Linked DNA regions of Homo sapiens: region 2 is linked to region 1. Evidence: fine-mapped expression QTL. A gene starts in region 1. The other region holds a variant in brackets. All regions are shown on one strand. Distances are between the middles of the regions. Region 1 holds the start of KIF11 (kinesin family member 11). Region 2 overlaps IDE (insulin degrading enzyme).

Region 1 (3,023 bases):
GGCACCCCTCTGCGCAAAAATAAAATTGCTTTGCTAAAAATCCTTTGTTCAAGTGTTCAATTTCCTTAAGATTTTAAAAGTTATTCATAACAATAGGCTCCTGTTTCAGTATTTCCTGGTGCGGCGTACCACACCTACAGCGGTCGAGTCACGCCAGGCACTGCCAAGACGCCGAAAAGTTCTCCCGCAGCAGGCCGGAGGTGACCGACGGCGCGCAGGCCCCAGCGAGCGCTGCATGCTGGGATCCGTAGGCCGGGGCGGCGGATGTTTGCGCAGCTTCCTTGAGATGCCACCGCCCGCTGCGCCGCGCAGAAACGGGGAGCGCAGCGCACCCGCGGCCTGCGTCACTCGGTCAGTGCAGTCGTTCTAAAATCGAGGCGGACCCTGCTTTCTTGCCTGGAGTCACTTAGAGATGATGACTAAAGGATAAATTCAGAGTCCTCCAAATGGCGTCCAGTGTCCATTTCATCACGATTTGGAACCTGTAGTAGCCTTATCGCTTAACACTTCCTAATTATTATTATTATTATTTTCTTTTTGAGAAAGGGCATTGCTCTGTCGCCTATGCTGGAGTAATCCAGCGACATAATCCCGGCTCACTGCAGCCTCTATCTCCCGTGTTCAGCGATCCTTCTTCCTCAGCATCCCGAGTAGATGGGACCAAAAGGCACGCATCACCACACCAGGCTATTTTTTCCCCTCTATTTTTTGTTGAGACCCGTTGGGAGGCGCGGGGAGGGGGGTCTCCCTATGTCGCCCAGACTGGTCTCAAACTCCTGGAACTTAAGTTATCGTCCTACCTCGGCCCGTTAAAGTGTTGGGATTACAGGCCTGAGCCACCGGGCCCCAACATTAATTATTCTTCAAGCCTATTCTGGACCGGGCGCGGTGGCTCACGCCTGTAATCCCAGCACTTTGGGAGGCCGAGGCGGGTGGATCATCTGAGGTCAGGAGTTCGAGACCAGCCTGGCCAACATGGTGAAACCACATCTCTACTGAAAATACAAATATTAGCCGGGCGTGGTGGCACGCACCTGTAATCCCAGCTACTCGGGGGCTGAAGCAGCAGAATCGCTTGAACCTGCGAGGCGGAGGTTGCAATGAGCCGAGATCGCGCCACTGCACTCCAGCCTGGGTGACAAGAGCAAGACTCCGTCTCTCACACACACACACACACACACACACACACAAAGACTATTCTGGTCTCTGCCTCCGGGATGGCGGCTCGCTTTGGACCTCTCTTCTGTGCTTCTACTGCCCTCTCTTACAATTCTCTAATAATTATAATCATGGCGAGTGCTTACCATATATTCCAATCTATTTACTTCCACAAGCTCATTAATTCTCACCCTAACCCTCTGAGATGGTTACTATTATTTCCTCTCTGCAGCTGAGGGAATTTTGGGCTAGGGACGTTATGTAAGTTGAGCCACGCTACGCTAAAAGTTCCACACTCAATTCTAGCGTCTCGGCTCTGGACTACCAAGTTCCGGAGCAAGCAGACAGACCACCTCTTTACGTTCCCGTAGGCCACGCTCCGGGGGCGGGGCTCCAGTGAGGATACTGCATCCCATGGTGCCTTGCGCGCCAGCGCAGCCATTGGTCCGGCTACTCTGTCTCTTTTTCAAATTGAGGCGCCGAGTCGTTGCTTAGTTTCTGGGGATTCGGGCGGAGACGAGATTAGTGATTTGGCGGCTCCGACTGGCGCGGGACAAACGCCACGGCCAGAGTACCGGGTAGAGAGCGGGGACGCCGACCTGCGTGCGTCGGTCCTCCAGGCCACGCCAGCGCCCGAGAGGGACCAGGGAGACTCCGGCCCCTGTCGGCCGCCAAGCCCCTCCGCCCCTCACAGCGCCCAGGTCCGCGGCCGGGCCTTGATTTTTTGGCGGGGACCGTCATGGCGTCGCAGCCAAATTCGTCTGCGAAGAAGAAAGAGGAGAAGGGGAAGAACATCCAGGTGGTGGTGAGATGCAGGTAGGGAGAGGGCTGACAGGATTCCGAGCGCTGCGGCTTCGCTGCTGGGCCCCCTACTGCGCGGTCCAGGGAGAGGGATTTTATTTGCATTTCCTGAGGGTCCCAGTTTCTTGGTTCTCCGCGTTCTGTTCAATAAAAATGACACCCGGTTGCTGTGTGTATGTGGTTTTTAGGAGAAAATAACATGTTTGATTTGATCACTGTTCCATACTGAAAAGTGCGTTCTTATGTTTAAACTATAGTCAATAAAGATGTAGGTGTCACTTTTATATGCTACTTCATGTAGTTTGTCAGTTTGGAAGTAAGACTGAATACCTATTTTGCAGATGGTTAAGCACTTACGTTGGTATTATTACCTCTAAAAAGCAATCAATCACTGTTCTCTTTATTCTAGATGCAATATTTTCTGCATCCCTACTAAACAAGTAAACATCTCTGTCTTTAAACATTAAAAATTAATAAAGTGAGTTTATGTTTTTTAAAAGATCAAGACAAGTTAAGCTAGTGTAAATTTCTGATTGTGCTGCAGTTTTCCCTTTCATCTGCGTGTTTGTTCATAGACCAAACTAAACGGATATTTCGAGATAAAGGGATGTGGAGGGGTGTTCGGCCCTCCCCTGACTGGTTTCCAAATAACTTCCCAATTTTAAAATAAGCTAGAAACTGCTGCTTAGTTAGAATTGATTTATTCAACTTTTTAGAGGCTCTCCACAGTTTACTGAGTATGTGTGTTTTGTGTGTCCGTTTTTGTGGCTGTTAACAGTTGCTGTTGCAACTTTTCTGTAAACCCCAAAGTATTCTAAAATTAAAAGGTTATTTTTTAGAAAAACTTGTATCAACAAACTTTCTTAGGCTATTGTTTACTCAGCCCTGGTAACTTGAATTGTGGATATCGAAGGTGATGACTAGGTTTCTAAACAAGGTGTCAGAGAGGAAATTGGGTGGCAATCTTAAGTCTAGCCAGTGACACTTACTAGTTGTTGTACTCTGGGGCTTCTGTTAGTAGTTAGTTGTTTGAAGATTTTTATTTAAAAATGCAGTGCATATAA
Region 2 (2,500 bases), 38 kb before region 1:
GTTCAACATCAACACACTTATTGCAAATCAATAAATGTGATATACCACATTAACAGAATGAAGGGGGAACAACCCCACACAATCATCTCAATAGATGCAGAAAAAAGGCTAAGTATAGTGGCTCATGCCTGTCATCCCAGCATTTTGGGAGGCTGGGGTGGGAGGATGGCTTGAATTCAAGAGCTCAAGACTAGCCTGGGCAACACAGCAAGATACCGTCTCTACAAAAACAGCTGGGCATGATGGCACATGCCTATATTCCCAAGTACTCAGGGATGCTAAGGTAGAAAGGTCCCTTGAGCCCAAGAGTTTAGGTCTGCAGTGAGCCATGATTGCACCACTGCACTCCAATCAGGCTGACAAGAATGCAACAGTGTCTTAAAAAAAAAAAAAAAAAGATGGCCAGGTGCAGTGGCTCATGCCTGTAATCCCAACACTTTGAGAGGCCAAGGCAGGCGGATCACTTGAAGTCAGGAGTTCGAGACCAGTCTGACCAACATGGGAAAACCCCGTCTCTACTAAAAATACAAAATTAGCCAAGCGTGGTGGCACATGCCTGTAATCCCAGCTACTCGGGAGGCTGAGGCAGAAGAATTGCTTGAACCTGGGAGGCAGAGGTTGCAGTGAGCCAAGATCTCACCACTGTACTCTTGCACTCTAGCCTGAGCAACAAGAGCAAAATTCCATCTCAAAAAAAAAACAAACAGAAAAATACCTCTTCACAGATAGCTTTCAGATGCCACATGCAGGAGCTGTGAAAAAAGGGGGGAAAAATAGAGCAGAAAAATAATTTGACAAAATTCAACAGCCTTTCACGGTAAAAACTCTCAACAAATTAGGTATACAAGGAATACCTCCATTGTGTACTTCAGTACAATAAGAGCCATGGAAGACAAGCAAACAATGAACGTATTCAGCAGTGAAAAGCTGAAAGCCTTTCCTCTATAATCAGGAACAAGCATGACAAGGATGCCCACTCTCATTTCTATTCATCAATGATAATTTTCTGATTCTGATGGTATTGTGATGATATAGAAAATCACACTAAAGAGGCCGGGCACAGTGGCTCACGCCTGTAATCCCAACACTTTGGGAGCTGAGATGGGGGGATCACCAGAGGCCAGGAGTTCAAGACCAGCCTGACCAACATGGTGAAATCCCATCTCTACTAAAAATACAGAATTAGCCAGGCATGGTGGCACATACCTGTAATCCCAGCTACTTGGGAAACTGAGGCAGCAGAATCACTTGAACCCAGGAGGCGGAGGTTGCGGTGAGCCGTGATAGTGCCATTGCACTCCAGCCTGGGCAACAAGAAAAAAACTTTGTCT[C/CA]AAAAAAAAAAAAAAAAAGAAAATCACACTAAAGTATCCAATGGTCAAATTACTGTAATTGGTTCAGGAAAAAAATTATTTGCACTATATTGTACAATAAAAACTTTTCAGTATGAGATTGTTTCAAAAATACAGTATATCTCTTTCATGACAAAAATGCTGATCAAACTAGGAATAAAAGAGAATTTCCTCAACCTGAAAAAGGGACTCTATGAATAAGCTACTGCTAGCATCGTACTTAATGGTGACAGATAATGTTTTTACCATTAAGATCAAGAAGATGACAAGGATTTCCACTCTTGCCACTTCTATTCAACACTGTCCTGGAAGTTCTAAACAGACCAATTAGGCAAGAAAATGAAATAAACGGCGTACAAATTAGAAAGAAAAAAGTAGGCCGGGCGCGGTGGCTCACGCCTGTAATCCCAGCACTTTGGGAGGCCGAGGCGGGTGGATCACGAGGTCAGGAGATCGAGACCATCCTGGCTAACAAGGTGAAACCCCGTCTCTACTAAAAATACAAAAAATTAGCGGGGCGCGGTGGCGGGCGCCTGTAGTCCCAGCTACTCGGGAGGCTGAGGCAGGAGAATGGCGTGAACCCGGGAAGCAGAGCTTGCAGTGAGCCGAGATTGCACCACTGCAGTCCGCAGTCCGGCCTGGGTGACAGAGCGAGACTCCGTCTCAAAAAAAAAAAAAAAAAAAAAGAAAGAAAAAAGTAAAATTAGCTCCATTTGCAGAAGACATGATCTTGAATATAAAAATATCAATTGTATTTCCATACAGTAGCAATGAACAAACTAAAAATAAGAAAACAATTAATAATAGCATCAAAAAATAAAATACTGGGTGGGCACAGTGGCTCATGCCTGTAATCCTAGCACTTTGAGAGGCTGAGGCGGGTGGATGACCTGAGGTCAGGAGTTCGAGACCAGCCTAACCAACATGGTGAAACCCTGTCTCTACAAAAAATACGAAAATCAGGCTGGGTGCAGTGGCTCACCCCTATAATCCCAGCACTTTGGGAGGCCAAGGCAGGTGATCACCTGAGGTCAGGAGTTCGAGACCAGCCTGGCCAACATGGTGAAACCCTGTCTCTACTAAAACTACAAAAATTAGCCGGGCGTGGTGGTGGGTACCTGTAATCCCAGCTACTCGGGAGGCTGAGGCAG

The links. PIP is the estimated chance that this variant, and not a neighbour inherited with it, causes the effect.
Region 2: its variant is fine-mapped to the expression of KIF11 in whole blood (INTERVAL, PIP 0.96).

Annotation. Positions count from the first base shown.
Region 1 is chr10:92,591,479-92,594,501 of GRCh38, forward strand. KIF11 (kinesin family member 11) reads left to right here and starts at 1,652. Exons shown (of 22, transcript NM_004523.4): 1 at 1,652-1,974. The coding sequence starts at 1,898. RefSeq lists enhancers at 367-456, 1,267-1,456, 1,487-1,536, 1,638-2,389 and silencers at 1,857-1,906, 1,987-2,056.
Region 2 is chr10:92,554,166-92,556,665 of GRCh38, forward strand. All of the region lies in intron 1 of IDE (insulin degrading enzyme), which reads right to left. Among named protein-coding and RNA genes, the nearest start is that of IDE, 19 kb to the right of the region's middle. The variant C/CA (reference allele first, on the strand shown) is at 1,332.